Homo sapiens: one gene and its partners. The protein of the gene in region 1 purifies or fractionates together with the protein of each later gene. This does not show direct contact. Each region holds a gene or a part of one and is shown on either strand. Other genes may lie near its edges. The genes, in order: REG4, PITRM1 and SIRT3.

The links.
Region 2: the proteins of REG4 (region 1) and PITRM1 purify together in Homo sapiens (affinity purification with mass spectrometry; one large-scale study listed by BioGRID and IntAct). This does not show direct contact.
Region 3: the proteins of REG4 (region 1) and SIRT3 purify together in Homo sapiens (affinity purification with mass spectrometry; 2 studies listed by BioGRID and IntAct, with this or other methods). This does not show direct contact.

The regions. Positions count from the first base shown.
Region 1 is NC_000001.11:119,794,434-119,798,088, forward strand, and holds part of REG4 (regenerating islet-derived protein 4 isoform 1 precursor), read right to left. Parts: intron 253-3,655; coding exon 185-252; 3' UTR 1-184. UniProt on the Homo sapiens protein: Calcium-independent lectin displaying mannose-binding specificity and able to maintain carbohydrate recognition activity in an acidic environment. May be involved in inflammatory and metaplastic responses of the gastrointestinal epithelium.
Region 2 is NC_000010.11:3,139,374-3,141,805, forward strand, and holds part of PITRM1 (presequence protease, mitochondrial isoform 2 precursor), read right to left. Parts: intron 2,397-2,432; exon of another isoform or gene 2,228-2,396; intron 1,440-2,227; coding exon 1,314-1,439; intron 1-1,313. UniProt on the Homo sapiens protein: Metalloendopeptidase of the mitochondrial matrix that functions in peptide cleavage and degradation rather than in protein processing. Has an ATP-independent activity. Specifically cleaves peptides in the range of 5 to 65 residues.
Region 3 is NC_000011.10:229,802-233,456, forward strand, and holds part of SIRT3 (NAD-dependent protein deacetylase sirtuin-3, mitochondrial), read right to left. Parts: coding exon 3,542-3,655; intron 3,415-3,541; coding exon 3,182-3,414; intron 906-3,181; exon of another isoform or gene 752-905; coding exon 651-751; intron 1-650.

The DNA of each region.
Region 1 (3,655 bases):
AGAAGCCACTACTGGGCCAATGCTAAAGTTTCTGTCTCTAAGCCTAAAAAAGCCAGTGTAGTAGGGCCCTTATCACTCTTAGTTTGCTAGGTTTCCCCTCTGAAATAATGAGCAGATTTAGCCAGGCTAGCAGAAAGGAAGAGGACGGGGCTGTGCAGGAGTTAGCAGAATCTTGATTCTTGCTCTATGGTCGGTACTTGCACAGGAAGTGTTGGCGCTTGTTGCATTCGTTGCTGCTCCAAGTTAAAAAGTCTGTAAGAAAATAAACAGATATTTAAATCCATTCAGTACTATACTGAGCTTGCCAGAGTTATCTGGGTGTTTTTCTTGGAAGCATAGATAAGGCAATATGATGGTTGACTTTATGTGTCAACTTAGCTAGACTATGATGTACAGTTGTTTGATTGCTGCGAAGGTGTTTTTTAGCTGTGATTAACGTTTAACAATCAGTAGACTTTGAGTAAAGCAGATGGCCCTCCATCATGTGTGTGGGCCTCCTCCAATCAATTGAAGGCCTTAAGAGAAAAGACCTGTCTCCCAAAGAGGAAGAAATTCTGCCTCCAGACCGTCTTTGGACTCAAGACAACAACATTAAGTCCTGCAAGAATTTCCAGGCTGCTGGCCTGTCCTGCGGTTTTGAGACTTCACAGCCCCCACAATTGCATGAGCCAATTCCTCAAAGTAAATCTCTGTCTCTCTATATATACATCCAACTACTTCTGTTTCCCTGGAGAACCGTAATACAGATACCAACTTTCCCAATGAAAGAAAAACACTTGAAATGTCACACACCATGGCAAAAGCTCCACTCCAGCACTGCTTTTGAGGAAAGGCAGGGGTTGACATGAATCAACTGAGAATGAGGGGCTCTTGTGTTGAGGCAGGATGCAGTGAGGATCTGAGTGTGGCCTGTCCTCAAGCCCACAGCTGAGGCTCTAAGAAGCTCCTGTTCAAAGTTCAAAGAACTGAAAGCTGCTAAAGCCATTCACATCCCAACAGGCCATCTGCTTATGAAAAAGGAGAGAGCCCAAGGCGGAGGTGGCCTTTTGAAGGACTGAAGTATTTTTGAGGTGAGATCCAACTATTTCCCTCCCAGAAGCCAAGCTCCACAGCATCACTTGTCTTCCATGGGTGTCTGCAGCAGAGCGAGGAGTTGTTCCCTGGCTAGGTGTCTGCTTGGGCCCTGACCTGCAGATCTGGCCCTGTTCCCAGTGCGTGTGGGTGGGTGAGAACCCTGGGGAGAGGAGGGGGTGAGGTGTGCCCCTCCCACTCCTGGTTCTCAGGAGCCACAGAGGATGGGGCCTGCCCATGCCTGCATCCATAGTGCTCAGCGCAGGAGCCACAGAGTATAAATGAAACAGGGCCTGCAAGCTTGTGGGTACTTTCACAGTGTGGGGCAAAGAGAATACGGCACAAGGCCATGGGCCAGGCTTGAGACTGACTGTCTCATCAGCAGGTCCTTTTGAGGTTGCTGCCCATTGAGCCTGTGGATAAGCTAGAATAGCAGCTTCAAACAATCAAGCACAGCCCAGCTCACTATAGGCACTAAGCAAGAGGTCTGCTTTTCCCACCTCATCAGAGGCGGAGTGCAGGGAAGGGTGACTGAGAAACCTTACTTTCCCTTTTCTCCAGGCCACGGAGCCATTAGCCTAGCTTGCACGTGATAAGCATGCCACATGTATTCAGATGATTAGGGCGATTATTTCCTCCTTTTTATAAGGAGGCATTTGAGGCACAGAGAAGTCAGAGATCTGCACAGGGTCACACAGCTCAGCTAGGAGGAGCTGGAATTCTACCCTGGGCATTCAGAATGCAGAACCCATGCTCTTGACCTCAACGTATACTGAATATGAAATTTCTTTTCCAACTGCAAAACCCAAGTTATCATTATTAAATGTCTCAAAGTGGACCAGCAAAACATCAGGAAACATTGCAAGCTGCAATTTTCCAGAGTCACAAAACACATTTTGATGTAAAGGGGAGAGTCAGAAAGGGTGAGAGAGGGACACACAAAATAAAATGCTCTGGAATTCTTTCTAAAGAGTTATAAAAAAGGAACAGCCCTGTCACAAAGAGAGAACAAGAATGTGTGTGTGGCTGTATATTGGGGCATTAATATACATTTTGAATTAAAAAAAATAGAAACTGAGTGGGGAGCAAAATCCATTGTACTGATGTGGCTGAGGGGGATGGGCTTTTAAATTCTACCTTCCACCAGTTTCTCTCAAATCCTTGCTTCATTCCTTGTGCTTTTCTGCCTTGAGAGCCTGTGTTCTGACAGCCACGAGCTGGGTAAGTAACCATGGGAAAGGAAAGGAACCCAAAGACGTGCTGTTCTCAGAGAGCTTCAGGCTTCTGGTTCCCATCCACACAACAGAGGCAACTTCGCTACTGAATTTTGCTGATGTGATCATCGACTCACAGGGAAAGGACTTTCGTTTGAGGACTTTGTCCAATGGGAATGTCAGAATCTGGGGAATGTGAGGGACTTAGGGAGGCATCTGGTCTACTGCTCCCAAAGCAGGTCTGGCCTCCAGTCCCAGAAATTCTGATGCTGCAGGTCTGAAAACGAATCCCTGATATTGGTATTTTTACAATGTTCCTCATTTGATTCTTTTGTGCCATGGAGCCTCGCTTCTAACACTTAATGCGTCAACTGCAATAACAACTACAATGTCCACCTTTTGCTTGGTTAACTCTGGTTATAAGGTTTCTCACTACTTCCTGGGGTAGCTCATTATGTGTTTGAGCAGTGCTAACTGTTTAAAATTTTTTCCTTGATTGGAGTAAAAATCCACTTGTTGATAGCCTCTACCTATTGGTTTTGGTTGTGTTTTTTCCATTTGAGCCAACTTCTGCCTTGAACAGCAGCAGCTGTGCTCTCACTGGTCTGTGAAAATCCCCTCTATGGCTGTTTATCTCTGAGGGCTTTCCTCAGAGTGTGTCTCCTCATGCCTGCCCTTTGCCTCATGCTGTTAGAAAGTTTTCTCACTCTCTCTTTCCTTCTTATAAGTTTATTCCTCTGACAACAGTAAACTGCCCCCATGTCCTGCTGGGGATGACCAAGTCCCTCCCTACCCCAGCCCAATAGCTGAGACCTCAGCCCAGGCCTGCTCCAGGCCGACTTCTTGGCTGGCAGGGGGTCCTGGTGTCACTATGATGGCCTATTAGACCCACTGGGATATTCTCAAGTATACGACCTTTGGCACTGAGTATTCTTTAATATTCTGTGATCTTGTACAGCTGAAGTTTTCTACACCGCTTATTAATCATGGTTCTCACCAGGGGGTGAATTTGCCCCCCACAGGAAACACTTGGCTATGCCTGGAGATATTTTTGATTGTCACGACCTGGGAGGAGGAGTGCTACTGGCACCTACTGATTAGAGACCAGGGATGCCGCTCAACCTCCTGCAATGTACAGGATAGCCCCCACAACCAAGAAGTATCCAGCCCAAGATGTCACCAGTATGAATGCTGAAAAGTCTAACTCATGAGCATAAAGACAAAGAATGAAAGCAGGCCAGAGAAAGGAGAAGGCTCACGCGAGTGTGTGCAGCCTGCGCTGAGCTTCAGGCCACCACATTCTGGGGACAGGATTCAGGGAAACAGACAGAAGGGAAGAACTCAGGCAAAGACCGGCCTTCCAGGGCTCA
Region 2 (2,432 bases), on another chromosome or scaffold:
GAAATTACAAAGACTTACATGGAAAAATTAAGCAAACAAAGGTTTTCCTTTCATCTCCCTGAAGACACACCCAGGGTAGTACAGGAATCAGCCTGAGGGGGCCAATCCAGACTTCCCTTCGTGTAAATGCAAAGAGCCCAGCCCTCCCTTCACCCTGAGCTGCAGAGGGGCGGCTGTGAGCTGCTTCCCCATCCTTGTCTAGAAGCATGGCTTCCAGCACAGCAAGGGGGAGAACTCATCAGAGTGGCAATGGCTACCTACGTATCTACCTACATGCCTGCCTACCTACCTAATCTAGCTATGCATCCACGGGACAGGGTCTCACTGTCGCCCAGGCTGGTGTGCAGTGGCGCAATCTGCTCACTGCAGTTTCAACCTCCCCAGGCTCAAGGGATCCTCCCGCCTTAGCCTCCTGTAGCTAGGACCACAGGCACTTGCCACTGCGGCCGGCTGGCTCCTTCTTAAAAACTGTTGGAATACATGTTCTCTTAGGCAGCAAAGCCATAGAAAATCAAGAATATTGCTTTACAGTAACGGTGTTATGTTTATGAAAGCTAACAGAACTGCATCCACATCAGGCACCTCCAACTGAAATGAGCTAAGAACGCTCTCAGGCTGTATCAGCCCCCTCACCTGGGGCCTGTGTTTCAGGACCCCCACGGCAGGGCTGCAACCTCAGACAGCCACTATGGATACTATGTTTTTTTCCTATACCTATGATAAAGTTTATAGATTAGGTGCAGCAAGATATTAACAAAATACAACAATTATACTGTAATAAAAGTTACGCTGATGGGCTACTATTAAGTAAAACAAGGGTTCTGTGAACAGAAGCTCTTGGATACCCACAGCGTATCTGATACCTAGACGGCTACTGGGTGACCAACAGGCAGGTACCGTAGACAGCGTCAGCTTTCATCCCACTGCTTAGAAGAATGGTGTACAATTTAAAACTTAGGAAGTGTTTATGTCTGGAATTTTCCATTTAATATTTTCAGACCGAGGGGGACTGTGGGTAATAAACCATGGAAGGCAAACCCACGGATGGAGGCACTACCGTGTTCTGCCAAAATATGCTGGCTGAAGCCAGGGTTTACTGAAGGCAGAATGCTTCCTGTTTCGGCTGCTGGCCCTAATCCTCGCGCCAGAAAGGACATTGCTGGGTGTGGCTAAGTGCCCAAGGAGTGAAAAGAAGCACACAGAACAACTTTTGTCTAAAATTCACTGCAGTAGAAGAAAATGACACTGATAATCATGAGTAGAAGACTAAAACGACGTGTGCATCCCAATGTGTGAACTAGAGCAAAACTCACCTGTAAGAGTAAAGGGTGAAAATCCCATTGTGGCTGAGTTTTGCGCCTCCACCATAAGCACCGCCTTTTTCTCGAATTTCTGTATGCAAGAATTTGGCAGTCATCAAACGTGCAAGGATTTTAAGACTGAAATGATTAAAAAATGCAAGTTAATACCGTGGCTGATAAAAAAGCATAGACAATGAAGTAATTGTTGGATTAAGTGAAAATGAAAATCGAGTTGTAAAATAATGCTGCATAAATTATGGTCCCATATTTTGGTCTTGTTTTTTAAGAGATGGGGTCTCGCTCTGTCGCCAGGCTGGAGTGCATTAGTGCAATCACAGCTCACTGCAGCTTTGAACTCCTGGGCTCAAGGGATCCTCCCACAACAGCCTCCTGAGTAGCTGGGCCTACAGGTGTGTGCCACCACGCCTGACTATTTTTACAGTTTTTGTAGAGGCAGGGTCTAGCTTTGTTGCCCAGGCTGGTCTCAAACACCTGGCTTCAAGTGATCCTCCTGCCTTCAAAGTGCTGAGCTTACAGGCATGAGATTTTCTTTTCAATTAACCAAAACTAAAAAGCACAAGGAAGCACAATTTTCAAACAGTTGGCTTAGATTACAGGGTTGAAGGGAGAGGTGGTGGGGAGGGAATCTTAACACTTCCAGCACCACACTGCTTAACTTGTTCCAATGCACATGTGGCATTTTTAAAATCTCGTGAAGTAGAAAGAGGTTATTTCTATTATAAAGGCAAATGAGCAAATGAACATTTATTTAAATGTCTCACATCAGAATATGGAAAGAAAGGAAACTGAAGTGAGTTTTATAAGAATCCCTTAAGAAAACACACACTCTCTGATAAAGCACATTTCTAGGAACAGGGCCAATTTCCTCTGCCTTCCACTGTGAACGGTAACATCACATTCAAGCTGATTCTAGAACACATCCACCTCCGACAGAAGGCGGGGCAGACAATGATGGGAGGGTCTGCAGCACAGACACAGGCTCCTTGAAGACGCCCGTGGTGAGATCAGCCCCAGGTCGCCGCTTCCACAGACAGGCCTTTTCCTAAAGTGGATGAAGGGAGTCAAATAGGCCAGGTGGGAAATCAAGGAAGGAGTGGGCGTGTTCCCAGG
Region 3 (3,655 bases), on another chromosome or scaffold:
CAATACTTGTAGGTATCATACTCAAAAGAATAAAAAACAAGGACTCTCAAACGAATACTTGCATATGCTCCACAGCAGAACTATACACAAGAGCAGAAAGGTGGGACAACCCAAACACCCATCCATGTACAAACAAACCAACTGTGGTGCATACATCAGTGGAACATTTAGCCATGAAACAGGATGAAATACTAACACAAGCTACAAGGCGAAGGAGCGAGAAACATTTTCAGGAAATAAGCTCGGCACAAAAGGCCATCTGATTGCCGGGCGTGGTGGCTCACGCCTGTAATCCCAGCTACTTAGGAGGCTGAGGCAGAAGAATTCCTTGAATCCGGGAGACGGAGGTTGCAGTGAGCCGAGATCGCCCACTGCACTCCAGCCTGGGCGACAGAGTGAGACTCAATCTCAAAAAAAAAAAAAAAAAGTGGGCAGCTGGAATTGGCTGAAGGGAGATTCATTTTCCCTACATATTTCTATATTGTCTTAAATTTTTTTACAAGCATGTATTGATTTTCTAATTTACAAATAAAATGTTTCACACTATTATTGTTCAACTGTCCTTTCGAGACAATGCTTATAAAATACCACTTTTCCAGATCACCCCAACAGCAAACTGCAGAAGGACAACCAACAGCAGGATAACTCACCCGAATGTCCTCCCCTGGGAAGGGTCTTTGGCAGACTGTGCAGGTGGCAGAGGCAAAGGTTCCATGAGCTTCAACCAGCTTTGAGGCAGGGATGCCCGACACTGAAATTCAAGCCAAAGCGAAGTGTTGCTGCCGCCTCCGAGATGAGCACGCAAGGCCAAGAGCACAACTTCTGGGCTTGGCAGGACTCCTGGAAGGAGGCACAGCCCCTTGGGGTTGTGATGTCCTCAAGCCTGGTTTTCATGCCCGTATCACCTACATGCGCCATCAACCAGAATAAGGCAGGGGAGCAAAGGGGCACCTAGCTGGAGCCAAATCACGGTTAAAACAAAGCCTGTCAAAACTCAGTACGAAAAACCATTTGATAAAAGCTCAAATAAAATTATATCCAGCCGGGCACAGTGGCCCACACCTGTAATCCCAGCACTTTGGGAGGCCGAGGTGGGCAGATCATTTGAGGCTAGGAGTTCAAGACCGGCCTGGCCATCATGGTGAAACCGTACCTCTACTAAAAATACAAAAATTAGCCAGATGTGGTGGCAGGCACCTGTAGTGCCAGCTACTCGGGGAGGCTGAGACAGGAGAATCGCTTGAACCCGGGAGGTGGAAGTTGCAGTGAGCTGAGGTCGTGCCACCGCACTCCAGTTTGGGTAAGAGAGCGAGATTCTGTCTCAAAAAAAAAAAAAAAAATTACACCTAATACCAGGCTGGGTGCAGTGGCTCATGCCTGTAATCCCAGTGCTTTGGAAGGCCAAGGCAGGAGGATCACTTGAGGCCAGGAGTTTGAGACCAGCCTCAGCAACATAGTGAGACTTGTCTTAAAAAATTTTTTTAATTAGCCAGGCATGGTAGTGCATGCCCGTAGTCCCAGCTATTCCAGAGGCTGAGGCAAAAGGATCACTTCGGCCCAAGAGTTCAGGCTATAGTGAGCTATGATCATGCCACTGCACTCTAGCCTGGGCAACAGAGCCAAGACCCTGTCTCAAAAATTTATATCTAATATCCAGGAACATATCTTCTATTCTACAGATACCAAGTTAAAATGAGGATATAAATATCATAAATTCCAAAAGAATTGCTTGGTAGAAACAGACAAAAAGTGACTTCTTATGAAAGTTGTGTTAGTATTAACTGGTTCTGAAAGGCTGCGGTGGCACAGCCAGGGTCCCAGCTGCAGGAGGCTTCCCAAGTCCCTGTCGCTGCCCTAACTCAGCAGTGCTGAATCTCACAGCCAGGAGCTCCCACCTTCCCACAAGGCCTGCCCTGCTGCACCTCTGGGAGAAGAGCCCACCAACATGGGGCATCCGCTGCTGCCTCTGTGGTTCCAAGTCAGGGGATCCTTCTGGCAAGGAAACACATTCCTGGAGCCAAGGTGCCACCTCTTTTTAACTGACAACACATCAGCAGTCTCTCCGGGAGCCTGGCTCCCGGAGAGCTGACTGTCCCAGCACCTGTCTGCATCACTGCACGTAAGGAAAAGGCCCCACCAAGTGCTTCCGTTAGGTGCACGGCCAGAAGTTGGCACAACCTGTGAATCGCTGGTTTGGGCACCATATGGATACGGTCAAGAAATCACCACAGACTAAGTGTGACCATATTAAGGAATTACTAGTGATTCTTCAGTGTGAATCACTATCAGAGTTGTTTTTATTTTTTAATTATTTTTATTTTTATTTATTTTTTTGAGACAGAATCTCCCTCTGTCGCCCAGGCTGGAGTGAAGTGGCACGATCTCGGCTCACTGCAACCTCCGCCTGCTGGGTTCAAGAGATTCTCCTGTCTCAGCCTCCCGAGTACCTGGGATTACAGGCACACACCACCACGCCTGGCTAATTTTTTGTATTTTTAGTAGAGACGGGGTTTTGCCACGTTGGCCAGGCTGGTCTCGAACTCCCGACCTCAGGTGATCTACCTGCCTCGGCCTCCCAAAATGCTGGGATTACAGGTGTGATCCCACACCTGTAATCCGGCACCCGGCCGGAGTTGTTTTTAAAGTATTCTCTAGAGCTATCCATTCATGTGTTTATAGATTATTTCTAGATTAAATTCATGATGTGAGAGATTTGCTTCAAAATAATCTGGGGATTTGGAAGAAGGTGGTGAGGACGCAGGAAGAACTGGCTGTGTGCTGGTGATGAGGACAGGACGGTTCGTTACATTGCTCTCTTTGTGTGTGCTCAAAAAAATTCCATAATACACTTCTTAAAAGAGAGAAGAAAAAAAGAGATCATCACACCAGATTGGCAAAACAATGTCAACTTCTGCCCAAAATACACAGCTCTGCAGGTATGCAGGAGAACAAGCAGTGGCCTTTAAACACCCAGAGGACATTTTCCTTGGGAACAAAGCCCTAACTAGTTGGCTCAAAAAAAGTCCCAAGGAAGAAGCATAAGCGATAGGTTTTGGCCGTCCCCAGAAACAGGCACCCGAGCATCCCCTGTGAGAAACAGGCACCCGAGCCTCCCTGGGAGAAACAGGCACCCGAGCCTCCGTGGGAGAAAAAGAATGTGTGCGACTCACAGAGGGCTCACCTCTCTCAAGCCCATCGATGTTCTGCGTGTAGAGCCGCAGAAGCAGCCCCTTGTCATGAAGCAGCCGGAGAAAGTAGTGAGTGACGTTGGGCTTGTAGTTTCCAGGGTACAGCTCCTTGGCCAAAGTGAAAAAGGGCTTGGGGTTGTGAAAGAAGAATGGGAGTTCAAAAATGGCCTCGGGGTACGGGAGATCGTACTGCTGGAGGTTGCTGTACAGGCCACTCCCCGGCGATCTGCAGGGAGAGAAGAAAGGCTCTGAGGCCTTTGGAAGAGGACAGGGAAGTGGAATAAACTGGGCAGTGGGGAGGGCAGGAGTCAGGGGAGGGGAGCGCAGAAGGCAGGTGGGACTGTGGGCAGTACCTGAAGTCTGGAATGCCACTGGGTGTGCTGATGCCGGCCCCCACCATGACCACCACCCTCTGGCAGGCTCTGGCCCGAATCAGCTCAGCTACATCCTGCAGGGAAAGCTTCCCC